Homo sapiens: one gene and its partners. The protein of the gene in region 3 interacts with the protein of the main gene of each other region in a pairwise test. Each region holds a gene or a part of one and is shown on either strand. Other genes may lie near its edges. The genes, in order: TTC19, CDCA4, TCAP and VIM.

Region 1 (7,969 bases), about 24 Mb from region 3:
TCACTCTGTTGCCCAGGCTGCAGTGCAGTGGCACAATCTTGGCTCACTGCAGCCTCCGCCTCATGAGTTCAGACGATTCTTTTGCCTCACCCTCCCGAGTAGCTGGATTACAGGCATGCATCACTATGCCTGGCTAAATTTTGTATTGTAGTAGAGACGAGGTTTCACCATATTGGCCAGGCTGGTCTCGAACTCCTGATCTCAGGTGATCCACCTGCCTTGGCCTCCCAAAGTGCTGAGATTTCAGGCATGAGCCACCACGCCCGGCCACAGCTTCAGTTTTTTTACCCTTGGGGTGACATAAGACCTCTCAATTCCAGACCAAAAAAAACCAGTATCATTAGCATGTTTTTTTAATGATGAGTGGACCTAGATTTGGTTTGTTAACAACAAAGTATGTGCAAGTATTTAATTCTCACATGATTGCTGTCCTGTGCTTCTTCTTGCAGATTAATTGGTGATGTGCTTTTCATTTTCAACTATTTTTTAAATTTTGAGGGTGAAAGCAAAAGGGAATTTTAAAGTTTTGAAATAAGTAGGAACACAGTATTCTAAACTGAAAAACAATTTGTAATTTGCTTTCAGATGGCCAACTTAGCATTTATACGGGGTCAGCTTGAAAATGTAAGTAAATTGCTTTGTAATATCTTGAATTTATGAAGGAGTAGCTTCAAGGGAACTGTAATAGTAAGAGTACAGGCTAAGCTGCTATAACAAAGAGACCCTAGAATATAGTGACTCAAACAAGATAAAAGTGTATTTCTCTTTATTGTGTTAGTCCAGAGATAGGCTAAAGACTGAAGGCAGACAGACATAGGCACCTTTGCTCTCTGATCCAGAAGTCCAGGTTTCTTCTAAGATAAGCCCTCCTCTGCCTAGGTGAGCTGACTCACCTCCAGTCTGCAGGAAGGGGGAGAAGATGGACTGTGAGCAGCTTCCTTATAAAACATGATTAGAAGTTCACGTTCTTTCTGCCTGCATCCCTTGGCCTAAATTTTATCATATGACCATATCTAACTTAAGGGTGTCCAATCTGCTAAAATTGACTGAATTTTTTTTTTAAGATAAGGTCTTGCTCTGTTGCCCAGGTTGGAGTGCGGTGGCTTAATCATGGCTGACTGCAACCTCGACCTGCCAGGCTCAGTTGATCCTCTCACCTCAGCCTCCTGAGTAGCTGGGATTCCAGGCGTGTGCCACAACACTTGGCTAATTTTCTTATTTATTTATTTATTTATTTATTTATTTATTGTAGAGACGGGATTTCACCATATTTCCCAGGCTAAATCGAGGGGACTCTGTAATCAAAAAGATGGAGAAGAGAATGACTATTAGGAGACAGTTTGTAGTCTCTGCCACAGTGGGTTTGGATAAGAACTTAATCTCTGAGGTTGTTTTCTACTCATCAGAGAGTAGTTTAAGGTACACAGAGGATGTTGAGGGTCCTGATATTTTGATCTGTTTTCGCTTCAAAAGGGTACTTTTCTGTGTGTGAGTGTGCGTGTGTGTGGGTATATGGGTTTTACAAGGAATGTTGCATCAGACTGGCACTTAGAATCCAGGGTCATATATATATATATAAAATGGGGCCCAATTAAAAGAAAAATCTTTTCCTTATGCTTTTAGGCTGAACAACTTTTTAAAGCAACAATGAGTTACCTCCTTGGAGGGGGCATGAAGCAGGTAAGGACATTGCCTAGTATTGGCCCCTCACTGAAGCAGTTTTCAAAACAGTCTTGTCTCCTGAAAACTCCTCCTAGCCCCACCACATGCTTTGGTCAGGAAAGGTGGAGTTTCCCTTCTGAGATCTCTATACAAATTGCCATTCTTTCACTAAATGCAACAGCATGCTTGCCAAGGAATTCACAGTTGGCTCATCACTCTAAAAGAATAAAGACTGTGGCTTTGAGGCCACCGTCAGTCTGGAAGTTGATCTGAAATATGCCATGAAAAAATTTACTTGTTATGAGTTCCCTTCATTCTCTTTCTCTCACAGGAGGACAATGCAATAATTGAAATTTCCCTAAAGCTGGCCAGTATCTATGCTGCGCAGAACAGGTAAGTACAGCAGCCAGGGAGTAGGACTGTGGGCAGGAAACTTTGACTCTGGGATGTTACATAATATTCATTGTCTACTGGTCATCTGGGTCTCCCAGAAATTGGGTGTCACACTCAAAGTGTTCCATCCCTCATCTTTGAAATTGTCAGTCTTTTTCCAGTTTGCCCCTACTGTTTCCATCAGCCTGCCTAGTGGGGCACACAACATCTCTGGCTGCCCTGTGACAAAACTAACTAAGTTTTCTGTTGCTGCTTGAAGTGGGAAGGGAAGTTAGAGTTAGAACTTTAGTTTAACTTTTCCTAGAAGAGGAAAGAGCAGTGTGAAAGCTGCTGGGGATAATATATTAATACTCTGAAGAAGCCATTTTGCTGGTATAAATAGAGTTCAAAGATGAAGCATCTAGGTTGTAAGCAGAGAACTCCTCTAGAGAGTTGTATTTGGGATGAATTTAGGGAGAGACCTAAGACTAGCTTCCCTTCAGGTTTTAGTGGTGCAGAAGTTGGTGCGAGAGGTTTGGAGTGACATGGAGCCTGATGCTGTAGAAAGGGTGCTCACTGAGGCCAGGCCCTGGCACTGTTCCCTACTGTCCTACTCACCAGCTCCTTTGTTCTCATCAGGACCTGCATAGTCTCCTTGCATTTTGATTGGACACTAGATAGGCTAGAGCTTCCTGGAGCCTTTGACTTCAAGTCTTTTGAGGAGCTTTGAGCTTGGCCCATGCCAGGGAACACTGCAGCTTGGTCAATCTTTCTTGGAGTTGTAACAAACATGCCTAGTTCTTGATTGGGTATGAATCCCTAGGGTAAGAAGAAGCCCAGAGCCTAATAAACATTGTTGAGTAAGACAAATTCATAGTCTTCTAGAGGTGAAAGCTAGTAACAATTAGCCTCTGAGTTACATGGTACTCTGTACTTTTCATTTTGTTTTATTAAGAGAAGCATGAGACTAGAAAAGACATGGCCAGATCTGAGGCTTCGAAAGGCTGATATAGGTTATGAGGGGAATTGTTTGTAGACCTCTTGCTCCGACTGGGAGCGTCTTCTGGGCAGTGTCCACTTGCCCTGTGTTATGGCTAGAGAGGGCCCTCTTGCCAAGTTTTGAGCGTAGGGAAGGAAGGGGATGCTTCTGTTCTTCTGAGAACAGAGCAGAACAGTAGGGTCATAAGTTCTCCCCTGGCAAAGCACTAGAGAACAGGTGAGCTTTTTAGTGCCACTTCTGTAAGAAACTAGAGCCAAAACTGAAGAAAAGAACCAAAGCTGAGCTCCTAAATGGAGAAGGGATTTCTGTCACATTTCCTCTGCATCTCTGTAAAAAGCAGCAGTCAGTCGGCCTGCTTGGGTTGACTCAACCCTCTCCAGTTGATTGAGGGTCCAGGGCTACAGAGTTGGGTTAAATGACTTCTATTGCCATAGCTAGGAGTCCCATTTCTGCAAAAGAAACTTTTATCAGAGACTTATAGCTTGAAAGAAATATAAAATGACTAAAGCTCCTCAGAAGCTGTATGAGGTCAACAGTTGGAATCCTCACTGTAGGGCGGCCTGAACTGTTTAGGGTAGTATTACTTTGAACAGGGGTAAGGCTTTCACACATGGAGAAGTTGATTCACTGGAGGCCATCTGTTAGTGGGAGATGATGAATACTGCTGGCTATGTCAGTTATTAAAATTAGGGCAGCATTCCTAGCTTTTTGTGTCCTAAGTTATATTAAATGGATGACTTAAAAAAACTGCTTTGAGAAATGGCAGATTTGACACTACTTAGACTTTAAGCAAAGTTCCCTCTTCCCATTTTACACTTCCTTTACTGATAATGTTTAAACTGAGCTGGAAAAATGAAGATAAAAAGAATTTGTGAAAAGGTAAATGGGCCGGGCGCAGTGGCTCACGCCTGTAATCCCACCACTTTGGGAGGCCGAGGTGGGTGGATCACTTAAGGTCAGGAGTTCCAGACCAGCCTGGCCAACATGGTGAAACTCTGTCTTTACCAAAAATACAAAAATTAGCTGGGCATAGTGGCGGGCACCTGTAATCCCAGCTATTCGAGAGGCTAAGGCAGGAGAATCGCTTGAACCCCGGAGGTGGAGGTTGCTCTGAGCCGAGGTCACGCCATTGCACTCCAGCCTGGGCAACAAGAGCGAAACTCCATCTCAACAGAAGGAAGAAAAAAAAAAGAAGAAAAGGTAAATGGCTGATTATTGATTTTGCTTTACAGACAGGAATTTGCTGTTGCTGGCTATGAATTCTGCATTTCAACTCTAGAGGAAAAAATTGAAAGAGAAAAGGAATTAGCAGAAGACATTATGTCAGGTAGGAAACCCATTATCTGGGCATTGCCTTTTCTCCACAAAAGGCTTTACTTTACACTTTTGAGAAATGGAAAGAGATCTAAATTGGGAAGAGGGAAAGTTACCTATTTTGCAAAATAAGTGTCTGTCTTTAAGGTATCAGCAGAAGTTTTGGAATAAGATGTTTTATTTAAAATATTTGACTGCTGTTTTGGTGGTGGTTTTTTTTTTAACCCCCTTGGTAACATGGTCATAATTTATTTGTTAACTTTTAGTTACATATAACTTAAGGAAAATTGGGGAGCAGAAGGAGAAGGTGTTTCTCGTATCTCTTAGTTCAGCTACCAATCAAAATGCTTATTACGTTTTAGCCCTAGATATACAGCAAATTAAGAAAGAAGAGAAAAAAAGCTCATGTTTTTACAATCCATCCTCACTCATTCTGGAGGCTAGGAATAGAACTGGATGAGCAGGAAGCTCTCTAGCTCTCCACCATTTTGGGTTTCTTAATTTGGGTTGAAGTATTGAGAATTTTCAGATTTGACATTTATTCAATACCTACTCTATACCAAGAGCTACCGAGATGGTAGGGATACAGCAGTCAACTCTTCTGTACCTAGTGGTCTTCTAACTCTCTCTTGAACATAGAGTAGTCCCCCGTTATCCATGGGGAATATGTTCCAAGACCCCCAGCAGATGCCTGAAACGACTTCTAATACACTGTGTTTTTTTCTTATATATATGTACCTATGATAAAGTTTAATTTATAAGTTAGGCACAGTAAGAGATTAACAACAATAACTTTTAATAGAACAATTATAACTATATACTGTTAACAGTGTCACAGACAGGAGATTCATTCTTATTGTAGATCTTATCAACCTCAGCATACAGTTTTTTGTTTTTTGTTTTTTGTTTTCTTACTAAGTTGAGAACTTTCACCTTTTCATTAAAAGGAAGCACTTTATGACTTCTCTTTGTCATATTCAAATTGCCAGTATCACCACTCTCACACTTTGGGGCCATTATGTAAAATATGGATTGCTTGAGCACAAGTACTGCAACATTGTGGGTTGATCTGATAACTGAGACTGCTGCTAAGTGACTGAGGCCAGCTGCCGTATACAACTTGGGTACACTGGACAAAGATGATTCATGTCCTGGGCAGGATGGAGTGTGACAGTGTAAGATTTCTTCATGCCACCCAGAATGGCATGCAATTTAAAAACTTACGGATTATTTCTTGAATTTTTCATTTAATATTTTTCGGACTCTGGTTGACTGCAGATAACTGAAACCCCAGAAAATGAAACTGTGGAGTAGGAGGGATCACTGTACACCAATTTTTTTGTTTTCATCACTCCACTGAAGCTACCTTTATCAAAGTCACCAAATCCAATGGTTACTTCTCAATCCTTAACTTACTCATCAGCAGCTTTAACTTAGGGGATCACTGTCTCCTACTGAAAATACTTTCACTTGGCTTCTGGGATGCCTCACTGGTCTCTCTAGTGAGGTGAATAGACTTCCCTACCTCTTAATGTTGGCACGCCTTAGGGCTGTTTTCAGCCCTATTCTCTTTTCTCTCTGCCCCAACACCTAGGAGATATCTTTTAGTTCCATAGTTTTAAATATTAGATTTATACCTTCAGCCCCAACTTGCCCCCAAATGGCAGACTTATAATTATGATTGCCCACCCGACATCTTGACTTGAAGTCTAATGGTCATCTCATACTTAACATGTCCAAAATAGGTCTCAGTTTTGCCGCTCACAACTTGTTTCGTCACCAGTCAGCCCCAGATTTGTAAATGGCACACTACTCATTTAGTTGCTTTGGCCAAGAACCTAAGAATTGTCCATGATTTCTTCCTCATTCCTCATATCTAATCCATCAGCAAGTTATACTGGATCAGCCATCAAAATATATCCATACTGACCATGTCTCATCCCATTACCCTACTGCTTTGGTCCAGGCCATCACTGTTTCAAGACCTCAGTACCTTTGTATCACCTTTAGAATAAATTTAGAATCCCTGCATGGACCTGTAAGGCGCTTATGACCTGGGCCCACCCACCTCTTCCATGCCATCTGCTGCTCTCCCCTTGCTCGTTCCAGTCTCACCACACTGGTCTTATTCTGGCACATTCCAAGCTTAGTGCCACCTCAAGGCCTCTTTGCTTGATATTCCCCCTACCTAGACTGTTCTCTCTTACCTTTCTCTGGCCAACTCCCGTACTTCACTCAGGTCTCTGCTCAAATAGCACTTCCTCAGAGTGCTCCCTTCACTAAAACTATCATCTCTTCCCACCTTACTATTGCTCTACTCCTCTTTCCTTTACTTTTCTTCATCACACTTAAAAGTAGAGGTGTGTGTGTTGTGTGCTTGTGTTTCTCCACTAAAAGTATGTTTTTGTTTAAAAATTTTTAGTCTTTGTCTTCCATATCAAAGAAGGATAGAGACTTCATCCATTATACTCAGTGCTAAATCCTCGGTGCCTAGAACAGTGCCTGGCACATAATAGAGGCTCAATAATTACTGAATGAAAGAACAAAAGACCCAAGAAAGACCAGCAAATAAATCCAGTTTCAGTGCAGTGTGGAAGTGCTTTGAGGAAATCCACAAGAGGTGTAAAAACAAGTCTAGCTGTCAAGTAAGTCACTTCTGAACTATTTACACCTTTGCTGTCTTTCATTTATAGTGTTGACTATGGTTTCTTAGGAGTGTAAAGCTATATTTTCTGATTCAAAAAATAATACCAGTAAACACTGAAGAAAGTTTAGAAAAGCACTAAGTAAAAATCATCTGTAATCATACTATTAAGAAAGAGCTACTGTTTTATTTATTACTACGGCTTTTCGGGTTACATTTTAAGAAATAAATTTGGGATGATACTGTATATCCTACTTTGTAACCTGAGTTTTAACAATTTAGTAACATATTATGAAAACACTTTTTTTTTCCAGGCAAAGGAATTCTTGTTAGATAGAGCAAGCTAATTTCTATTATAAATATTATTTTTACATTTTACTAGTTGCACAGTATAGAAAATGTGTTACATGATTCTTCATCTTATTTTTTCTAGAAAAGGAATTCCTACCTATTCAGTTTTGCACAAAGCAAATCCATTATCAAATTTACGTGCTTTTTATTGACACAACTATCTCTATTCTAGGATAACATTACTTAATTACATAAAATTACATTACTTAATTACATAAAACCTTGCTCTAGGATAATTATTTTGTTACCTATGTTGTAGACATATATGTACTTACTGAGGAAATGCCCATAAAAAATTAAGTGAAAACTTTGGTTACAAAACAGTATAGTTAGTATGTAGACTAAAAATAGGAATGGAACAAAGGCTGAATGATAGATATCAAAATACAGGCAGTGATTCTCTTTGGTTGGTAGGTTTATAGGGAATTTATATTTTATTTGTGTTTCTCTGAGTATTCTATAATTTTGTACAAATTTATATTTTTCTTTTTAATTTCCAATGTTATCTGTTAGTATAAAAAGTCAAATAATATTAATAGTACAAAGCTTAATTTAAGAGAGCATTTTCTTGGCTATCTCACCCACCCCATCTATTTTTTTTATTTTTTAATTTTTAATTTTTTTTT
Region 2 (7,888 bases), on a different chromosome or scaffold from region 3:
CAAGCATTCTTTTAGGACTTAAACAGCCCGGGCACAGTGGCTCATGCCTGTAATCCCAGCACTTTGGGAGGCTGAGGCAGGCGGATCACCAGGTCAGGAGATTGAGACCATCCTGGCCAACACGATGAAACCCCATCTCTACTAAAAATACAAAAGATTAGTCAGGTGTGGTGGCACGTGCCTGTAGTCCCAGCTACTCGGGAGGCTGAGGCAGGAGAATTGCTTGAACCTGGAAGGCGGAGGTTGCAGTGAGCAGAGATTGCACCACTGCACTACAGCCTGAACAACAGAGCGAGACTCCGTCTCAAAAAAAAAACACACACACACAAAAAAAACACTTAAAACAAGTTGAATGTATACGATCTGGTGTATTCTGACAAAGGAATGCAACTCAGCAACATACCTCAATGATTTATGCAACACGGATAAATTTCAAAACATTATGCTGAATAAAAGCAGCAAGACACACACAAAAATATGTACCGTAGGATTCTATTGATCTGAACCTTCAGGACAGGCAAAGCTAATCTAAGTTGTGAAAACACAGAAGGGTAGCCACCATCAGGGTGGGAAATGCTACAAGGGGCCAGAAAGAATCCTCCAGGATGATGGAGATTCTCTCTCGCCCCTTGTAGGACTTGTGTAACCCAGGGACCTGCATAGATGTGCCTGGGTTACACAAGTTCTACAAGGGACGAGAGATAATCCCCATCATCCTCCACTGCATCTCATCCCATGCACAGATCCCATTCTGGTACCAGGAGAATATCCCTGTTCAGTCACTTCAAATCATTCCTCTCCAATGTTCCAAATCTCCAGCAGCTGTTAATTCTGTGTTGTACCCAATATTTTAAAATGCTGACAAGTTTATTACTATTAATACAAAAAAGAGTAAAGCTCACAGGTGCTTTTTACAGTCACGTGACCCCAAAGAGCTGTCACCCAGAACATGTGTTCAGGAGTGAAGAGGATAAGGTTGGGCCCGGAGAAGCTGGCCTGTGAGGATCACCCTGAATTGGGTTATATCTGTGTTTGGGACAAAGTCAGCAAGAGCATGGTCTTAACCAGCCCCGAGGGATGCCTGGGCTGGGCCCAGCTCCCTGAGGGCCTCCTGTGTGACTTCTGCCTGAGGCTGCTTAACTCCTTCTAATATGGAATGAGAAAGGGCCCTATACCATACCGGTGGGGCTGTGGAGCCTAGCTCCCTGCTCAATTTTTTTTTTTTTTTTTAAGACAGAGTCTCATTCTGTCCCCCAGGCTGGAGTGCAGTGATGCAATCTCAGCTCACTGCAACCTCCACCTCCCAGGTTCAAGCGATTCTCCTACCTCAGCCTCCCGAGTAGCTAGGACTACAGGCACGCGCCACCACACCCGGCTAATTTTTGTATTTTTTGTAGAGACGGGGTTTCACCATGTTGGCCAGGCTGATCTCGAACTCCTGAACTCAGGCAATCCGCCCATCTCGGCCTCCCAAAGTGCTGGATTACAGGCGTGAGCCACCATGCCTGGCCCCCTGCTCAGTTTTGAAGCTCTTTCTACACATCTAGTTAAATGCCTAAAATCCCACCAACTCCACAGGTTGTTACCGGGACAGCCAAGCCCTCAGTCAACTCCCAGCACTGCCCTCAGGCTTCTAAACCAAGCACCGACCAGACAGAGAAAAACGAAGAGGGCCAGACGGACTGAGGACATGTCCGACATGGCAGGTGGAACAGCCAACAGGCCACTAGGGACAGAGCAACCTAGGCCCACCGAGGCAGAGGCCAGCAGGGAGCAGCCCCGCAGTGCTGCTCAGGCAAGCAGAGTACAGCTCGGGGACTGGTCCTTCACTACAGCAGCAGTGGCCACACCTTCGTGGCTGAGCAATACCACGAGGCTGGCTGAAAACGCAGATTCCCAGATTCTGATCAGTAGGGCTGGGACGGTTGGGGACAGACTCAACTCTGACCTAACCTGTCACCTTCACAGCTGGACTTGCAGCCACTTCAAAGTTTCGGGTTTTTAAGCAAATCATCAACAATTTCCATTCCTCACACATCAGATAAGCTTTGAAATACTTTATCGGAAAAACAGGGAGAAGAGGAGCAAGGTCTGCAGTCTTGAGTACTGAGTGGGAGCTCCACCTTCCACTACAAGTCTCCTGGAGGCTGTTCATGAACAATTACTGTTATGTTAATTTCAGGTATTTGGTTTTTTTTGTTTTTTGAGACGGAGTCTCGCTCTGTCGCCCAGGCTGGAGTGCAATGGCACGATCTCGGCTGAGACCTCTGCCTTTCTGGTTCAAGCGATTCTCCTGCCTCAGCCTCCCACATAGCTAGGATTATGATTACAGGCATGCGCCATCACGCCCAGCTAATTTTTGTATTTTTAGTACAGACGGGGTTTCACCACGTTGGCCAGCTAGTCTCGAACTCGGGACCTCAGGAGATCCACCCGCCTAGGCCTCCTCTCAAAGTGCTGGGAGGTGTGAGCTACCGCGCCCAGCCAATTGCAGGTACTTTTGTTACTTGGAACGAAACACACTCCTTCTTTTCCCTGAAAACATGTTCCAGTGGCAAGTTGAGGGAAACTTCCTAGCCCCTTTTCCAAGATACAGCCTACTACTCTTCCTAGAAAAGGGGTGTAACTCACTTTGTATTCTGGATTTCCACCCTAATTATAAAACACGGTGACACTTGAAAATAGAGTGGTTGTACGTAGAAAGTTGATAAAACGTAAGTTTTGTGAACAGGCAATGTTTTTCTGTGGCTCGCTTTGAGAGAACGGTTATCTGGGTCCCGCCGTCCCGTGCGTCCCACACGAAGGCCACAGGAGAAGCGAGGCAGCGGAGACCCTCTATTCCAGCAAGCTGTCGGAGCCTTTGCCACGACGATCCTGTTTGCGGGGCGAGAAGCGTCTGAAGACGCGGAGGGAGGCTTGCGTCTGACTTCTGCAAGTGTCTCGGGGACTTTCCCTAGTCCCACCTCGCACCGCCGGAGGAGCCCAGGGAAGACGGCGCTGGCCGACCCGCCCGGGGTCTGGGCCTCCTCCCACATCCGCGGCCCTCTCCGCGGCCGGGCTCCGACAGAGGGGGCTGCGGCGCGCCTGGCGTTCCCTCCGCTGCAACTAGAGCCGAGGTACGGGAAACGCCGCTGCGTACCCCAGCCGGGCCCTCGTGAAGCGGCTCCCGCGTGGGGCCGCCCGCAGGCCTCGGCAAAGCCCCAGCTCCGCGCTCCGCAAGGAACGCAGACGGCGGCCCGGGCCCCTCTGTTCCCCGGGCCCCCTCAGCAGCGGCCACCCCGCGGGGGAACCAGCGCCCAGGAGGGCGGCGAGGGCGCCGCGGCAGCCCCAGCGGTGGTCCCGGGCGCCGCCTCCGCCCCGGACCCAGCGCCAGGAGCCACAGACTCCGCGCACCGCCCCCAGGCTCCTCCGCGCCCTGCAGCACAAAAGTGCACGCCGCCGTAGACGCCCTAGCGGTCCGCCGGGCCCGCTCACCTGACCCGCGAGGCCGCCCGCCGGGTCCTCTGCTCAGCCACCGCCACCGCCGCTGCCGCCAGCTTCCCGCCGCTGAGGAAGGAGCGCCCGACGGCGCGGGGCGGGGCGAGCGACCGCCACTCGGCGTCCACAAAGGGTCGACGCTGCGCTCTCCGCGCGCTACGCCCGCTGATTGGCCACTCGCGGGCCGGGGGCGGGGCCTCTTGTTCAAACCCACGCGGGCGGGGCATCTGTGGCGCGTCTTCCCGCGCTGCGGCGACGGCCGTTGGGGCTCGCGCGCGCCCTCGGTTGCCCCGCCCCCGCCCCTGCGCCCGGCCCCGCCACGCCCACGCCCCGCCGGCTCCCAGGTCTCCCCGCGCCCAGTCCGGCCCCGCCCCGCCAGCTCCCAGGTCTCCGCGCGTCTGGCCCTGAACTGAACGCGCCTGCGCCTGGGGCCCACGTGGGGCCCTCGGGCGGGCGTGGCGGGGCAAACAGAGGTTTGGACTCTCTCGCTTCTGCCTGGCTCAACTTCTCCGCCGAGGCATCCGTGCCGGGGTCGGGAGGAGCCGGGCACGGCAATTCCCGGGCGGTCTGGGCTCCGAGGTCTATCCAAGCCTCTCCAGAGACCGGGGTTATCTCCAAAGGCTTCCTAGGTTTACACGTAAGAAATGTAACGTGAAAGTTCAAAGCAGGGGACACGTGTTTTAAATCTCTTAGTGGAAAAGGTTTTAAATAGGATGCGAGAACCTGCAATCATTGACTTAAGTAATACCCTGAGCGCCTGCAGCAGGCCCGGCAGGCGTGGCTGCAGCTGAGAGCCAAGTGCTGGAAGTTGGGGGGGAATCCTCAGATCAATCCGCAGGTGCGGATGCGCCAAGGTCGGTGGTAAATGCTGAAATGCTGTCGGGAAACCTGGGAGTGACGTGGGGGCGCTGCTCACATAGGTCTCTAGGATAAGGAGCGTCTTAAAGCACCAAAAGGAAGAGTGGACGAGAATTCAGGAGAGGAATGGCTGGGGCAAAGCCCGAGGCAGGGGCAGGAGGCAGGAGCACGTCTCAGTGCAGTGAGAAAGAACCCTGTGATCTCGTGGGAAAGTTTTAAGTGTGAGGGGTGGAGGGACTTTTGGGCTATTCTGGGAGTGGGATGGAGACTACTGGCATGGTCAGCAGAGAAGGAACTGGAATCTGAATTGTGCTTGAAAAGAATCACTGTTCTTATTTAAAAAAAAAAAAAAGGGGGTCTCTTTCGCCCAGGCTGGACAACAGTGGCGTGATTATGGCTCACTGTATCCTCGAACTCTTGTGCTCGAGTGATTCTCACGCCTCAGCCTCCCAAGTAGCTGGGACTACAGAAGTGTGCCACTACACCAAGCTAACTTTTTTTTTTTTTTTGGTAATTTTGTAGAGACAGGGTATTGTCTTGTTACACAGGCTGGTCTCCAACTCCTGGCCTTAAGTGATCCTCCTACCTTGGCCTCCCAAAGTTCTGGGATTACAGGCATGAGGCACCACAACCACCAAGAATCACTGTTGGTAATAGATTTGGAGGAGGTGGCAGGAAGGCTGGAAGTAGAAAATCCCATTAGGTTACTGCCCAGGTAAAAGAAAATGGGACTTGATAAAGGTGACTACCTGAGAATTTAAAGTTTATGCATGTCAAAGTGAAAAGACAAATGGGGAAAAAAGTTTTTCCTGGCTGTATCCCACATAAAGGTTAAATTCCTTAATATACAGATATTCTGCAAATGCAAATGAAATCTAGATCACCAAAGAAAAGTGGTTTGGAAATAGTGGCACCCACCTGTAATCCCAGCTACTCAGGAGGCTGGGGTGAGAGAATCCCTTGAGCCCAGGAGTTGGAGGCTGCAGTGAACTATGATTGCACCACTGCACTCCAGCCTGGGCAGCAGAGTGAGACCCCATCTCTTAAAAAAAGAAAAGAAAAGTGGGCGTAGAATATAAACACAGTTCAGAGCAAAGAAAATACAAATGCTCCTATACAGGCGAATAGATGCTCAGCCCCAATCAGAACAAGAGCAGTGGAAATTAAAGCTATGCTGGAGTGCTGTTTGCCACGGGTCAAATTGGCAAAGATCTAAAATAATGTCTGGAGTAAGATAATATCTTCCAGAGCATATTAGTCTATTCTCATGCTGCTAATAAAGACATACCCGAGACTGGGTAATTTATAAAGAAAAAGAGGTTTAATGGACTCGCAATCATGGCAGGAGACAAAGGAAAAGCGAAGGGACGTCTTACACGGCGGCAGGCAAGAGAGCGTGTGCAGGGAGCTCCCCTTTATAAAACCGTCAGATCTCAGGAAATGTATTCACTATCCGGAGAACAGAACAGGAAAGCCTGCCCCATGATTCAGTTACCTCCTGCCGGGTCCCTCCCACGACATGGGAATTATAGGAGCTACAATTCAAGATGAGATTTGGTGTGATATTTTGACATGTATATACAAAGTATAATGATCCATCAAGGTAGTTAGCATATCCATCACCTCAAACATCATTTCTTTTGTGTTGGGAACATTCAAAATCCTCTCCTCTACCTATTAGAAAATATGCAGTAAGTTACTGTTAACTGTAGTCATAAAATATTAACAGGCTTGCTAGGACATAGGACCAGAAAAAACATAGAAGTCTATGGTTACACCAAGATTGGAGTCATATTTTTCAGTAACTAATGTATTCAGGAAAATTGATGACAAGGAGAACTAGAATCCGTTAAAAAAAAGACTCAAATTGAAGAAAGAGCATCAGTCTTACACAGAGTCTTCCAAATGATAAAGGGGAACTCTTCTTACCAATTTGTTCTACAGGGCTAACAAATTTGATACTAAAACTCGAAAGGGACATGATGGGAGAAAACACACATGGTATTCTCTCTCATGAACATTGTTTAAAATTCCAAACCACATATTAGCAAATCAGATCCAATGATAATGTAAAAAAGGTAACTCATCACAACCAAGTTGGGTGTACTCCAGGAACTGGAGTACAGTTGATTTCACATTGCAAGGTCAACATGATTCATGACAATAGAATGAAGGAGAAAAAAAGTATGAAAATCTCAGTGTAGAAGCATCTAGTAAAATTCAACACCCCTTCATGGTATAATCTTTAGCAAACTAAATATACAAGTACAAAGTTAGGGACAGCCCCAAGACCACCCTCAAGTTTGAAATTCATTAGAAGGACTCAGAGAATTCCCTAGAAGCTATTGTACTCGTGGTTATGGTTCATTACCATGAAAAGGCTCATTAAAATTAACCAAGAGAAGAGGTGCATGGGGCAGCGGCCAGGAGAGGCCATGCGGAGACTCCAGTTGTTCTCTTAGTGGAGTCATAGTGGTATTGCTGGTGAAAATGTGTCACTGGGCCTGAGTCCAGAGTTCATTTACTTCCCAAATGAATATATACATTTATTCTATTGCCAGGCAAAATCCCAGGATATTTTTGAAACCTCACAAAATGCTATTAAAAATCTAGAGAAATGGCCGGGCACAGTGGCTCATGCCTGTAATCCCAGCACTTTGGGAGGCTGAGGTGGGCGGGTTACCTGAGTTCAGGAGTTCGAGACCAGCCTGGCCAACATGGTGAAACCCCGTCTCTACTAAAAATACAAAAATTAGCCAGGCGTGGTGGCATGTACCCGTAATCCCGCTACTCGGGAGGCTGAGGCAGGAGAATTGCTGGAACACAGGAGGCGGAGGTTGCAGTGAGCTGAGATTGCACCACTGCATTCCAGCCTGGGCGACAGAGTGAGACTCTGTCTCAAAAAATAAATAAATAAACATAAAAAATAAAATAAAAATCTAGAGAAATACATGTGGAAGGCTACCCTATAGATAAAGTAAGAAAAAAGAAAAGTATTAAGGAGGACACCCACCTCTATATCAGTTACCTTTTGCTGTGTGACACACTTTCCCAAACTTAGTAGATTCAAAAGGCAGCCTTTTGTTTGCTGGCATTTCTGCGGTTGGCATTTCGGCTGGGGTCACAGCATCCTGTGTCTCATGAGGCATCAGCTGAGCTCACTCAAGTGTTTGGGTCTTGGCAGAGATGACTGACTCATCTCTGCTCTGTCATCCTCCGGAAGGCCAGCCCAGGCAGGCACCAATACAGGGGCTCTTTTTATACTTCCCTCTGCTCTGCTCATATGTGCCAATGTCCAGGTGGCCAAACCACATGTGGCCAAGCCTAGGGCCAGTGTGGACACGAGAAGACAATTCCCTGGAGGACATTATTATTGTTACTATTATTTTGAGACAGAATCTCACTCTGTCGCCCAGGCTGGAGTGCAATGGTGTGATGCTCTCAACTCACTGCAACCTCTGCCTCCTGAGTTCAAGCGATTCTCCTGCCTCAGCCTCCCTAGTAGCTGGGATTACAGGCGCCCACCACCATACCTGGCTAATTTTTGTATTTT
Region 3 (6,546 bases):
AGACTGGGGAATTAGGCCCTTTCCCCAGTTTCCCCCTCGCAGCGCCCTCCGCGACGAGGCCCCAGACCCCGCCAGGCTCCCCTCCCTCCCGGACACCCGTCCCAGCACCCACCCTTCCCTTAGAACTGCCACACAACTCCCCCTCCCCGCCCCTCCTCCAGGCCTCTCTCGTCCGTTGCTATGCCACCGGGCCCTCCAGCGACACCCCCTCCCCACCCCGCCCCAGAAAGGACAGTCCGTTCCGGCCTCCGCTGTGGTCGCTCCGGGGGCCCCAGAGCAGGGCGCGGCACTGCCCGTCCGATGGCAGGCGCGATAGGGGAGGTGAGCTGTGCTAATGCACTTAGCGGGCGGAACAGCCGGGCCTCCCCTGCGGGCCCCGCGGGTTCCCAGCCGCTTATCTGGGGGCTCCCGAGGACAGAAGGTTCGGGTTCGGGTTGTTCCCGCCACTTCGGGGGCGGCGCCGGACCCGGGTGAGGGCAGAGGGCTTGGGCAGGGGAGGGGCAGGACGCATTCGCGGAGGGCCGCCGGGGCCACCGGGGAGCGCAGTCCGGGCCTTGGGGCCCAGCCGATTTGGGGTCCTGCGGATGTAGGGGCTCTGACCCCACTCCTCTCGCAGCCCACCCTCCAGCTTCCCTCCGAAGGAGCGGCCAGGCCAGGCATGAAGATTCTGCTCAGCACCCCAGGTTCTGGCTGTCAAAATGCCAGGGTCTCCCCACCTATCTCCCAGATGGGAAGCCAATTCTGCCTGTGGCATCTCCGTGGTCTTCCTGAAGACCCCTTCCTTCCCCTCTGGATGAGTCCCGGGCCCTTCTGCCCTGGGTAGGTCACCAGCCCAGCTCCTGCCACCGTGGGTTCCTGGCCCCGCTTGATGTGGGCCTCCTCCATGCCATTCCCTCCCCCTTGTCCCCAGGGGAAAGTCTCCTTGGGAGAGGCAGCTAGGTTGGGACATGAGTCACCACAACAGCTGCAGGGGTCACAGAGGGGAGCCTGACCCCCTAGCACCTCCAACCTTCCCTGGCTTCCAGGGCAGGGGGTGTGGAGCGAGACACAGCTGAGGATTGATTCTGTCTGGATTCAGAACTGAGAGGCAGGTTAGTTTTAGAGGTCACTGACCCCGTTCACACCCCGAGGCAAAGCCAAGGACAGTCCTGGCACCAGCCCCTCCATATTCTCCACGAGACATCATTGAAACAAACCCTGGATGCGGATGCCAGCTGGCTTGCTGGTTACCACCCAGTGCCAGGGGGCTGGACACAGAAGCCAGGACTGGGCAGCGGTCAGGGTACGGGAAGGAGACTGGAGACAGCACCCTGTTTACAGCTCTGTCCTGCCCCCACCCCCACCCCAAGTATGGGGTGTACCCATTAGCTCTGCCATATTTAGCTCAGATGCGGAGCCTGGTCCCAGAAGTGGGCATTGAGGGGACACCCATGGGCCAGCCCCCCCAACCACAAGGAAAGAGATGCAACTCTGGCACATGATTGAGCATTTATTGCGGCACTAACAGAGGGTGCTGGGGGCCCCACCATCCTTGCCTCTGCCCTTTTCACCTCCCCCTCCCTCCCAGCTTCTTCTGCCTAGAGCGTTCCAGATTCCCCTCACATTTTCCTGGATCAGGGCCACTCCTCCCAGGCACCTCTTGCCCTCACCAGTACCTTTTGTCCCTTCTCCTGGGGCTGAGGGTCCTCAGCTGTGCTGGCCCCCAACTCTCCACCCTTAGTGCCCACTGTCTCTGCCACCCTCCCTTTGGGAACTCAGGGGGCTCAGGCATCCTGGCCTCTGGCTCCCCCCTCCCCTAGCCCCCAACTCTGGGCAAACTACAAAGCAGCCATGGCCAGCAGCTCCCCTCCACAGTCCTAGCCAGGAAGGGCCCAGCCCAGGGCGGGCACAGCGGAGCCCAAGTCACAGTCCCTCTCAGCCTCTCTGTGCTTCCTGGGACATGGAGCGGGACAGGGAGCGACGAAGTGCACCGGGCTTGCTGACAGGCACCACAGGGGGCAGCTGCTTTGTGATCTCAGCCACCTCCTGGCGGTCCACACACTGGCCACCCAGGGCTGTCTCCAGCGCCAGCAGCTCCTGAAGCTGGATGGGGGTGTCCTCACGCTCCTCCTTGGTGGCGCCCATCTTGGCAGGGGTGAAGATGGGCAGCGGCAGTACCCGCTGGTAGGGCAGCTGGTACTCCTGCAGCCCACGGCCGAGGATGCCCATCCGCATCATCAGCCAGGGCGAGCGCTGCACCAGCACCTGGCACTGCCCCTGCTGGTGGTAGGTCTCATGTCTCTGGGTGTCCTCCTCATGCAGGGAGCAGCTGGGGAGAGGGGAGGGGCAGTGAGCTCCTGGGAGCTGTTGCTCTCTGGGCACAGGCTGGGTGGGGGGCTCCCCTGGGCTGCTGGGACCTGGGGGCAGGAAGGGTGGTTCCCCTTTGCTCTCCCCATGGGGCATTCTTCCTGCCCCCACCCCCAGAAATTTCTCCAGGGCTTCATGCTCTGGCCTCATGGCTCAGTGAGGGTGCTCTGGGGGAGCAGAGGCAGGGCTCTAGCAGACCCACACTCACCCCTCCTCGGGCCGTGTGGACAGTGTCAGATCCTTCCATTCTGCCCAGAAGGCCTCCCGGCGCTCACAGTTCTCCTCCGACACCTCGCAGCTCAGCTCTGAGGTAGCCATGATCACTCCTCATTCTCTCTCCCCTCCCAGGCCCTTTAAATAGCCCCCTCCTCCCCCTTCTCCAGGGGCTATTTTCGGCCCCTCTGGTGTCAGATGCTATAAGTAGAGCCAAGACTCACTAATGGGGGGACGCCGGACCCAGGGCAGGGGTTGGGGTACCTGGACGCTGGCTGCCCCCCGGTCAGAGGTCTGGGGTCCAAGGTCCTGGGGTCAATGCCTCCAGGTGCCTGACATTACTCAGACACCGTCTCATGCCAGCCACATGCCCAGCCTTGTGCCCCCCTGGCACTTGCCCTCTGCCCCACCCACTCCCCTTTGCAGGGAGGACAGCAGCTTGTCTGTAAACAGAGCAGGACCAGCAGGAACTGATGCCCCCTCTGGGCTCTGTACCAGGGCTGCCAGGTCCTGCCCTGGCTGTGCTCTCCTCTGCCTGGGCTCAAGGGCATATCCCCAGAAGGGAGAGTGCAACCACGTCCTCAGGCGCCTGCACCAAAGGCCTAGTGCCTAGTCCCCAGTCACCCTCACCACACCAGCAGGGGCGGAGACAGTCAACTTCATGCCTGGGAACCTGGGGCATGAGCCTTGGCCAGGTGTTTTCCTTCCCCATGGCCAGTGGTCAGGTAAGTGGTCTTAGGAGACAGGTCTCAGGAGACAGTCAGGCTAGTAGGGGTGGAGGGCCCCCAGTTCTACCCCAACACCTGTGTTGGGTGAAATGGGAATCCAGGGGCTCTGATGGGTGATAGTCAGAAGGCCTGGCTCCAGATCAGCCATAAATAGGCTGTGTGACCATGGGTCAGTCCCTGCCCCTCTCTGGGCCCCTTTCCCCACTTTCTGGCCACTGCAAGAGGACCAGAAGAGCTCTGGAGCCTGCCCGCTCTGATGTGCTACCTGGGAGGGGACTGGCTCTTCTTCATGGGGAGCAGGGGAGACAGATGGCTGTGGGGACAGTCCAGCACCCCAGGAGTAGCAACTCATGGTGCAAGAGGCTGGCAGACAGGTGGTGGGTGTGGGGGGATGAGGAGTGAGAACACTGCCGAGTGGACAAAGGGTGGCAGGAGAGGCAGTGACAGGGGCTGAGCTGAGGACCCTGTGGGGACGGCAGAGTACCCAGGAGCACGTGGGTGCAGAACTGCAGACTATTGATTACTGAGCACTGTCCCCGGTTCTTCATATCTTTTAATCTCATAACAACCCTGTGACATCAGTCCCATTTTCATAAAGTGGGAAGCAGAAGCTGAGAGAGGTAGATTCGCCCAGGGTCACACACCTAGGCAGGACCGAAACAGGATCCACCTGGCTCTGAAGAAGCTGGCTCTGCTGGAAGCCTGCATGCAGGCAGGCAAGGGGGCAGGCCAGCCGGGAGGGAGGAGGAAGGCAGGCAGTGGCCTGGCCCCGCCCTGCGATCCGGGCTCCAGGCCGCCCCTGGTGTGAGTGCCGTGCGGGGAGAGGGAATGGGTGAGTGGAGTCTGGGAGGTCCGGGGCTCCAGGTGGCCTGGATCCCAGAGGTGCCTCAGTGACCCTGAAGCTCAGGCCCCATCTCCAGGCCACACAGTCAAGGCTTGCTGTGGGCACTGCCAGGTGCCCATACCCCCACCTCCATTCCTGGACTAGAGACTTTAAACTTGCCCCGCTGAAGCCTGGCAGGGGGCGGGGCATTTTTTTCTGACCAGTCATCTGCTCAGTTGAACTGGTCAGGAAAGCGGGGAGTGGGGGGTGGGCGGGGGGGGAATGGGGGGCATGTTTCAGGAACTGGCTCCCCGGGCTCCGCCCTCCTGTGAGCCCAGGAGAGGCTGTGTGAGGGGTCTTCCCTCTTCATCCAAGCTGCTGCCTGCCTTTCTCTTCCCTCAAGAGGCAAGGCAGTGGGAGGGGCTGGAATTTTTTTTTTTTTTTAAATTCATGTTTTTAATTGGCTTAATACAAAGGTCCCCCAGGAGGCCCTGGGAGGAGGGGGACAGCCTGGGAGAGGCAGAGATTCATGGCCAGCAGCCCACCCCCACCTGCCACCCACTCCCCAACAAGGGTCCCAGACTCTTTCAATAATCCTAAAAAAACCGACGAGAGCGCAGGCAGATGAAGAGCCCCTTCATCTTCACACGGGTGACAGGCTGCCCTGCCCTGCCCAGGGCCCTGGTCCTCCCCAGCCAAGTCAGGTGCCCAGCCCAGACCCTGCCCTGGCAAGGTGGGGCAGAGCAATCTGGTCCTCCAGGAGGCAGGGCGCCATGTAAACATCAACAGGCCAGACCCCACTTCCTCCAGCCAGTGGGGCCCCGGAGTCCAGTGCTCCACCCCACAGCCTGCTCAGTCAGTCAACTCCAGGCACTGCGTGGCTCGGTGGAGGGTGACAGCCTGGGGCCAGGTCCCATGTGGGCAGTGCGAGCCCAACTGGCACCCTTTCTGGCTCTGGAAGTGGTGGCGACAGGACCCTGGCCCGCAGGGTGGGAGGGGGCACAGTCACGCCCGGGCCCCCAGCTCGCTGATGCGCTGTCGCAGGTGAAAGGCAAATTCAAACATGGTGGCCGCGAGGCTCTGGTGGATGAGGTACCGGGGCAGGCGGCCCTGGGGGAAGGCAGGCAGAAGTCACACTTGATGGCCTGCCCTCAGCAGGGTCTCCCCTTGCAGCTGGCACCAGCAGGGGGGCTCTGGGCCAGAATGCAGGTGCAGCTCTGGAATCCAGCCTGGGTCGCCCTCTCCCACTCACCCCTGGCAGGAAGAACATGCTGGGCCTGGCTCTTGGCACCAGCAACACAAACAGACCAGGGTGGGGCCGGGCTGGCCACCAGCCACCCTTCCTCAGGGCCTCAGGACTCAGAGGTAAGAAGGGGGGGCACATGCCCTACAGCAACCCAGGGCTAAGAGACCATCTGGACCCTGACCCAAATTTTCAAGTAAGAAAGGTGGCTGACAAAGGGGAGGCCCAGGCATGGCAGAGAGCCCCCAAAGTCATGCAGCAACCAAGTCAGCAGCAGGGTCCCCTCCACTCCACAGAACCCACCTGGCAGCCCCCCAGCACCCCACCTTGAGATCTGTATTAAGAATCCAGACAAAGGTGCAAACACGGGGGTTACTGGCCGACTTGAGCACGATGAAGCCCCCAGGGCCATTCTCTCCCCTATGGAAAGAGGCATCATTGGGGGGACTTTGGAACAGAGTGAGGCCCTGACACCCCCCCGCAGCCCCTACCACTCACACTCCATTCTTGGCCCAGCTGGGACTGGGCTGGAAGCAGAAAGGCAGAGCTACCCTATCTGAACAAGGCTTAGCACAGGTGTCCCATGGGCTGCAGAATCGGCCCTCCACCCCCACCCACTCTGTGATGCTTGAATCCTCCTACAACGGCCTGTTGGTGCTTGCACACCCCCAGGGACAGAGAGCTCACCACCTTCCCAGCCCTCATACACTCTGTCCAGAGATTCTAGGTCAGCCCTGCTATGGCAGAGTAGGCTGGGCTGGCGCTTCTTACCCCTTCCCCTTCAGGAGGGGACACCTGCTCAGGAGAAGGCTAAGCCTGGGAGGCACGGTTCACATCCCATCACCATTTCATTCTCCCTCAGCTCCACTGAGCACACCTAAGCCCATTCTGCAGATAAGGAAGTTGGCATCCAGAGAGGAAGTGAGCTTCCCTGCACCCAGCAAGTCTGTCCAGTGCCCAAAGCAGAGCCTGGCATCCTATTCAAAGAACAGTGCTCCTGCTGGAACCCAGGAGGGGATGGGGAAGAGTGGGGTCTATGGGAGGGGGCCACCCGCAGCACCACAGCCTGACTGGACAAAAGGGAAGACTCCAGAAGCCCAGGCACAGATGCGGGAAGGCCATAATCCCTTTATCTTTGGGGGAACTCCTGAGCCACTCCAGAGAAAGATGACGGAGTGAGGACAGGGTGAGGA
Region 4 (7,822 bases), on a different chromosome or scaffold from region 3:
TAAAAAGTGCAAAACTTCAGGGCTGCGCGTAAAGCCCTCTAGTGGCGGGAAGACCACAGGTTGGAGCTTCTCATGATTAGAAAAATATTAATAAAACCCCTTGAGCGATTTTTTTTTTTTTTTTGAGACGGAGTCTTACTCTGTCGCCCAGGCTGGAGTGCAGTGGCGAGATCTTGGCTCACTGCATCCTCCGCCTCCCGGGTTCAAGCGATCCTTGAATGATTTCTAAGCAGTTCCTTGGGACATAAAGAAAAATCTTTTAACTTTTTACTTTGTTTCCCAAATGTTGCACAGTTTTGCAACACATTGACCTTCTGGTTTCGAACGGTTACAATTTTAGATTGTGGTTTGCCAAAGTCAAGTTGCTTAATTTTTACAAGGCCACAAAAAGCGCAATTATGCCCTGCAGTTTAAAATGGAAAACGTGTTGGAAGATAAGAAAACTTAGTTTCCAACTGGAATGGAGCCAGCAAGTTTCTTTTCTTCTTTGCAAATTCTATTGTGTCATTAAAGTTCGATGGAAGTATCACTATGCACAACTATTTTGTGATCTAATAAGGGTGAAAAGGAGCCATCTGTCCCCTTGGCTAAGGGGTATTAATGGTTTCTATGGGCTTCACTATGGAATGTAGATACAGACATTCTGGCAAATGTGGTGGCTCTGGACAGAAATAATAGGAGTCTTTGTATTCCCAGGGAAGCTTTGCAACAGGCTACATTCTTACTGAATATGTAATGATGTAAGCACGGTTCTAATTGGACACAAGTATTTGCTAACATCCGTTATCTAATATCTGGCCCAGACTTGAGAAGTAGGTAATGTAAAAAGTTTTTAAAGCTACAAGCATACCTCACATTTTAAAAGTCCTTTCTTGATTGGGTTCTTGTGTTCTTTAGCACTCTTGCCATAAAAAATAATAACAGTAATAAACCCAAGGCTGAAAAACTGAATTTTAACTAAAGGGTTTTTGTGCGTGTTTTTTTTTTTTTTCACCAAAATTAGATGGACTTACAGAATTTTTAACTTAAAATTGGAATCCAAAAGCCAGAAGATCCCCATTATAGTTTATAGTTGTATTCCCTGGAATATTTACTGGGATTAACTGCAAAGCACTCTCAGATGAATAGTGTAGTATAACATTTTGAAACTGAAATACATTTACCAAATTAATTTAACCACAGCAATGTGTGTGGTTCATTTTAGTCCTTGAGCATTTTTGATTATCATACCTGTCATGTTTTCTGCAGTGTAGTGAGTTAACATAAAACAACATCAATACAAAAGATCCTCTGTTTCGAGATTAAGCAAAATTCCTCATTCTCTTCAATGTGATAGAATACCACATTGATCTTTCTTTGGAGGTTAGTAAAATATCTTTTATGTATTTTTCAGGGCTTAACAAGTAAAAATCAATGTTTTCATCAAGTCTGATCTTTTTGTCACCCACTCTTCATTCATTTTTCCACTAAGGTGATAGAAAAGTCTCAACAGTTTAAGACCGTAAGGCTATGAACTCCAAATATAATTGCTGACAAGATAAGCAATCCTCACGCATCCTTTTGAGAGGAAATAAAATCTTAGTTGCAAGATTACATATTCTGATTTGGAATGCTGAGCTTTTTAAATGGAAATATAGAAGGACGGCTGAATCAGCAAAAATCCTTTATGTAGTTTCATTCTTTGCAAGCTTGACCAGTCATTCTGAAACAGGCTAACTGAACTGATACAGTGGCAAGTGAAAAAGACATGCCTTTACAGGATGAGTCAAAGGAGTTTTAGAAGAAAAATCCACCAGAGAAAGCCAAGCAAATACAGTTCAGAGTTACATTTCTTTTCCATTTTTTCCTGAACTGAATCTTTGGCATGCATATCCTGAATTGGGTTATTGAATATAAATCTAGCCTTGTACAATGGATGCCAGATGACTACATATTTGCTTTGGAGCCTAAGGATAAGTTTCAAAAGATTTGAGTGGAGAAGAAAAGCTAAAACTCTTGAAGCACAAGTTTCTGTTCTCCATGTACTCAAGTGTACATGAAGTTGTGAAAATTTGTCCACCTCTATCATCATGTTATTCCATGAAATTACAAAACAAATCTTAAAAATGTTGTGGCATAGATTTTCTAGATTTAAAAAGTAATTAAATTAAATGAATTACTTTATTTTTTGAGACAGAGTGTCACTCTGTTGCCCAGGCTGGAGTGCAGTGGCACTATGTTGGCTCACTGCAACCTCTGCCTCCTGGGTTGAAGAAATTCTCCTGCCTCAACCTCCCAAGTAGCTGGGACTACAGGCATGTGCCACCACACCCAGCTAATTTTTGTATTTTTGGTAGAGACGGGGTTTCGCCATGTTGGCTAGGCTGGTCTCGAACTCCTGACCTCAAGTGATCCACCCGTCTCAGCCTCCCAAAGTGCTGGGATTACAGGCATAAGCCACCATGACCAGCCTTAAAAAGTAATTTTAAAATATCACTGGTAAAATGTGGATTCAGTCATGATTGAGTGCAGTTTACCATGTGTGTGGACATTTATTTATTTTAAAATTGTCTGATCACCACCTTGAGTAAAACACAAGCAGTCACAATTAAAATATATTAGTGAGCAGGAGAAAGCACAGCATATTATAGCACTGAATGATTTATAAACCTATTCCAGGGTCATAAAATGTGTCAACGGCTTTTCTATAGTAAGGAGACTAGGTTCAGATGGTTAATCTAAGACAAATAAATGAGATAAGCCATACACTTTTACATCCTCCATGTCCTGTCTTTTCTCTGTTCAAAATAGGATGTTGACAATGCGTCTCTGGCACGTCTTGACCTTGAACGCAAAGTGGAATCTTTGCAAGAAGAGATTGCCTTTTTGAAGAAACTCCACGAAGAGGTTAGTGGAGTGACTTTCGGGGAATGAATGAGGGTAAGGCAGCCCCCACGGTTGGCAGAGCTGACCGTCTGTCTGTTCTTTTTGCAGGAAATCCAGGAGCTGCAGGCTCAGATTCAGGAACAGCATGTCCAAATCGATGTGGATGTTTCCAAGCCTGACCTCACGGCTGCCCTGCGTGACGTACGTCAGCAATATGAAAGTGTGGCTGCCAAGAACCTGCAGGAGGCAGAAGAATGGTACAAATCCAAGGTAGGAAACAAATCAGTGCGGCTTCAACCAAAGAAAAGCATTGTGTTCTCAAAACCCCATACCTGTGTGTGATTCCTAAATATCCTCTAGCTCCAATGCAAAGCTGGCTTTGACTTCTTGCTCATATTGTGTTTGCCACCACAGCCTCCCCACCACTCACATCACCTCCTTTATTTATTTATTTATTTTCTTATTTATTTATGAGACAGAGTCTTGCTCTACTGCCCAGGCTGGAGTGCAGTGGCAACATCTTGGCACACTGCAACCTCCGCCTCCCAGGTTCAAGTGATTCTCCTGCCTCAGCCCCCTAAGAGCTGGAACCACAGGCAAGCACCACCATGCCCGGCTAATTTTTGTATTTTTAGTAGAGATGGGGTTTCACCATGTTGACCAGGCTTCTCTCAAACTCCTGACCTCAGGTGATCCACCCTCCTCAGCCTCCCAAAATGTTGGGATTACAGGCATGCGCCACCACGCCTGGCCACATCACCTCCTTCAGAATAGCAGACTCTCTTCCCCCTAACCTTGCCTCCAAGTAAACCCCAATGCCATACCTTTGACCTCCACTGTGTTGAAATGAGCACTGTAGAGTGAACTCTGAAAATACTAATGTCAGTACTCCACTGCTCTTTCCCTGGCTTTCAAAACAGAAATTTAAACCTATACTGGAAGACATTCAGTGAGAAATATGATTTTTTTTTTCTAAGAGAGTCAAAAGACTTGAATGTGAGCAATCTACATTTCTGTTTTCTTCCCAACAGTTTGCTGACCTCTCTGAGGCTGCCAACCGGAACAATGACGCCCTGCGCCAGGCAAAGCAGGAGTCCACTGAGTACCGGAGACAGGTGCAGTCCCTCACCTGTGAAGTGGATGCCCTTAAAGGAACCGTGAGTACCAACCCTGCAGTAAAAGAGGGAAAATAATGACCCATTCTGCTGACTAGGCTCATGATGATACCTGAACAAAATGTTGAGTGAGTAAAAATGTATATCATAATGCAAAGAAAATGAGTTATCAAGACAGACTCAAAAGGGACTTCATGGAACTCTTGAAGGTTTTAGCTTGCCTATATCATTGCTTCTAATATGAAGGACTTGGTACTCGCATTCTCCACCTAAAATTAGAGTGGTCGCCATTTGCCGCTAATGGAAATTATTGCAGAAGGTCTGTAAATGGTTCTGGGAACAGCTGGGTTTTTCTGAGAAATAACACCAGACATCTTTCTCACCCCCTGCAGAATGAGTCCCTGGAACGCCAGATGCGTGAAATGGAAGAGAACTTTGCCGTTGAAGCTGCTAACTACCAAGACACTATTGGCCGCCTGCAGGATGAGATTCAGAATATGAAGGAGGAAATGGCTCGTCACCTTCGTGAATACCAAGACCTGCTCAATGTTAAGATGGCCCTTGACATTGAGATTGCCACCTACAGGAAGCTGCTGGAAGGCGAGGAGAGCAGGTAGGGAACTCAGACTTGGATGCGTGAACTAATGGTGACCATTTGTTAGGCCCTGTGCCACTGGGCTCTAAGCAGTGTCACATTTAATCTTTAGAAAGTTTCTTTGAGGTAACTGCTTTCCACTTTTTGTAGAGGAGGAATTTGAATTGAGAGAGAGTAAGTGACTTGCTGAAAAAGGGTTAATCAACAGCAGAGCTGGGATTTGAACCCATAACTCTGTCAAAGCCTCCACTCCTAACTCCTGTTCATGCTCCTGTGGAGAAAATGCTTGTAGTAACATATTTTAAATGTACTAACAAGACCAGTCATGGGAAAATGTTTCTGAGACAAATCTCTAGTTTATGATTTAAAACAGTACGTTTTCTTACGTGACGAAAACAAAAAGTGTGTTAATTTGTTCCCAGTGGTTGAAGTTATTTGCCAACAATTTTACTGTTTCTCTTCATCTGTTTATAGGATTTCTCTGCCTCTTCCAAACTTTTCCTCCCTGAACCTGAGGGGTAAGCATTTTATTTCCCTTTAGGAAAAACGTCAGCTGCTTGTAACCACTGTGTTTATGTCAAAGCATTCATTTTTTTTAGGATATCTGAAAAAATGCCATATAAGAGAAAACTCTATAAAACATCTATAATTTTCGAACCCAAGTACACTCTTGCATTCTATGCTTTAAGTTAAATGCAAACTCCTTTTTCCTTCTTCCTGCTGCAAGTACTATCTCATCCTGATGCTCAAGAGTGTCAGGGCCTGGGTTTCCAAACAGAGACTACCCTAAAATTATTTGGCGAGTAGTACTTTACACAATTGCCTCTCCCCCACAAATCATAATTGTTTCAGTAAAATGGTTACTTGGTTTTTCCAAGAAAAAACTCGTTTTTACTCATTTTTGGCCTGTTTGTTTATTTAGAAACTAATCTGGATTCACTCCCTCTGGTTGATACCCACTCAAAAAGGACACTTCTGATTAAGACGGTTGAAACTAGAGATGGACAGGTTGGTATCTTTTAAGGAAAAAATAGGGTAATCTCAGACAGGAGTTGATATATTTTAAAATCAGTGAATCTGAATCTCAGATACAGCTGGCTAATTTGAGAGGTTCAGGTTTCATTCATGCCTACTAAAAAAAGAATAGGCTTCTTCTTCCAGCAGTACACACAGCCAACTAATTATTTGGCTCCTGGATGTGAAGTTGAGATAGCAGTCTTCCTGTGCTCCAGAATTAGTGATTTGCTTTGGTGCTTAATTTGAAGTGGGAGTAAGCTTCCTTAAACCACTTCCTAAAGCAGCTACATGAAACAGCTTCACTAGACTACCTCAATATGAGGAATGTTTTGATCCTGGACATATGGTGTCTTCCTACCTCCATACTTTATAGATTCCTAAACCCATCTATATAATACAAGCATGTGCCATACGATCATTTAGTTTCTTATTACCTCCCTATGCCAGGAAAGAAATAGTTGCAATTTATTGTAGTCATCATGAAATCTTCCCTTGCACATAAATTTAAAATGTACCTGCTGCACATTTTAATATGTCTTAATTGCTTTTAAACTTGGCTGTATTGTGTACAACTATTATACCATCTTTTATAAACACAGTTTTTTAAGAAATTTCTTTTTGTAAGTTACAACATTCCACTGGATCCTTATATTGCCTGTAGTGGAAGAGGGTCTTGTGTGTCTGCCCCTTCTAGTTTTCACTCATGCAGAAGCAACATAACCTTCTGATTTGCACAATAAATTACATATATTTAGCAGGATTTTTATTTGCCGTGATATATAGGATAATTTAGTCTTTGGCATGTGGCATTATATTTATTTTGGTTTTTTTTTTTAAACAGGTTATCAACGAAACTTCTCAGCATCACGATGACCTTGAATAAAAATTGCACACACTCAGTGCAGCAATATATTACCAGCAAGAATAAAAAAGAAATCCATATCTTAAAGAAACAGCTTTCAAGTGCCTTTCTGCAGTTTTTCAGGAGCGCAAGATAGATTTGGAATAGGAATAAGCTCTAGTTCTTAACAACCGACACTCCTACAAGATTTAGAAAAAAGTTTACAACATAATCTAGTTTACAGAAAAATCTTGTGCTAGAATACTTTTTAAAAGGTATTTTGAATACCATTAAAACTGCTTTTTTTTTTCCAGCAAGTATCCAACCAACTTGGTTCTGCTTCAATAAATCTTTGGAAAAACTCTTTTGTTGTGTTATTTATTGGATAATATCTAAACAATTCTCTACTTGGTCCTATTAGTTAATTTGTCATTACAATCATGTAAGTTGATAAATTCAGGTTATTTATGCTTGAGATGTAGTTCTTAATTTTGTCATTTTTGATAGACCTCACTTCTTTTTATTATTACTTAAAAACATTTACAAATAGGTGGTGTCGAATAAAATAACTTGTACCAAAATGAAGATAGGTCTCTCTAAAATGAGCTCAGGTCTGTGATTTTAATCATAACAAACAGACTTCCTAAAATTAAAAAATAAAAACTTTTTTTAGTACATATAGCATATGAGTAACACAAATTCCACTTTGGGAGTTAAAGCATAGGAAGTTGCCAAGATATAGGGGCTTATCTTCCGCTAGCAAGATGCAGAGAAATGGAAAAAGTTCACCAAGTTTTTCTTTTATTTAAGACAGGATCTCACTTTGTCACTCAAGCTGGAGTAAAGTGACTCAATCATAGTTCACTGCAGCCAACAACTCCTAGGCTCAGGCAATCCTCCCACCTCAGCCTCCTCAGTAGCTAGGAGTACTCAAAACAAATAAACGAATGTCTAACTTTAGCCTAAAATGTGAGTTGTCTTCCCAAAACTAGCCACACACCTGGCTAATTTTTTTAATTTTTTGTAGAGATGGGGTCTGGAAGTGTTGTCCAGCCTAGTCTGGAACTCTTGTGCTCAAGTGATCCTCCCTCGGCCTCCTAAAAAGCTGGGATTACAGGCATGAGCCACCACACTCAGCCTAGTTCACCAAGATTTAATATATGAAACCGTTCTGCTTTATTGTGTGTGTGTGTGATAGCTATATCTATATCCATCTATCTATAGATACAGATATTTGTAAAGACCTTTGTGTTTGGAGAATGGCATTAGGCACAAAATAAAACCTCCTACCTTTTCTTCCAGGGAGATGAGATTATTACATGTGAATCGCATGGTGCTAACTGTAGGTGTAATAAGGTTTCAAAGTCTGGAGCAATAAAAATGAAGTGG

What was found.
Region 1: the proteins of TCAP (region 3) and TTC19 interact in binary tests that used the Homo sapiens proteins (3 or more experiments, as listed by UniProt).
Region 2: the proteins of TCAP (region 3) and CDCA4 interact in binary tests that used the Homo sapiens proteins (3 or more experiments, as listed by UniProt).
Region 4: the proteins of TCAP (region 3) and VIM interact in binary tests that used the Homo sapiens proteins (3 or more experiments, as listed by UniProt).

Annotation. Positions count from the first base shown.
Region 1 is NC_000017.11:16,002,208-16,010,176, forward strand, and holds part of TTC19 (tetratricopeptide repeat protein 19, mitochondrial isoform 1 precursor), read left to right. Parts: intron 1-585; coding exon 586-624; intron 625-1,623; coding exon 1,624-1,680; intron 1,681-1,993; coding exon 1,994-2,055; intron 2,056-4,266; coding exon 4,267-4,361; intron 4,362-6,770; coding exon of another isoform or gene 6,771-6,799; exon of another isoform or gene 6,800-6,857; intron 6,858-7,969. UniProt on the Homo sapiens protein: Required for the preservation of the structural and functional integrity of mitochondrial respiratory complex III by allowing the physiological turnover of the Rieske protein UQCRFS1.
Region 2 is NC_000014.9:105,017,525-105,025,412, forward strand, and holds the start of CDCA4 (cell division cycle-associated protein 4), read right to left. Parts: upstream 3,560-7,888; 5' UTR 3,475-3,559; intron 1-3,474. UniProt on the Homo sapiens protein: May participate in the regulation of cell proliferation through the E2F/RB pathway. May be involved in molecular regulation of hematopoietic stem cells and progenitor cell lineage commitment and differentiation.
Region 3 is NC_000017.11:39,661,478-39,668,023, reverse strand, and holds TCAP (telethonin), read right to left. Parts: upstream 2,676-6,546; 5' UTR 2,665-2,675; coding exon 2,555-2,664; intron 2,309-2,554; coding exon 1,915-2,308; 3' UTR 1,470-1,914; downstream 1-1,469. Other genes in the region: STARD3 (stAR-related lipid transfer protein 3), read right to left, coding at 4,971-5,220, 5,657-5,773. UniProt on the Homo sapiens protein: Muscle assembly regulating factor. Mediates the antiparallel assembly of titin (TTN) molecules at the sarcomeric Z-disk.
Region 4 is NC_000010.11:17,230,797-17,238,618, forward strand, and holds the end of VIM (vimentin), read left to right. Parts: intron 1-2,790; coding exon 2,791-2,886; intron 2,887-2,973; coding exon 2,974-3,135; intron 3,136-3,896; coding exon 3,897-4,022; intron 4,023-4,372; coding exon 4,373-4,593; intron 4,594-5,049; coding exon 5,050-5,093; intron 5,094-5,497; coding exon 5,498-5,583; intron 5,584-6,433; coding exon 6,434-6,475; 3' UTR 6,476-6,797; downstream 6,798-7,822. UniProt on the Homo sapiens protein: Vimentins are class-III intermediate filaments found in various non-epithelial cells, especially mesenchymal cells. Vimentin is attached to the nucleus, endoplasmic reticulum, and mitochondria, either laterally or terminally.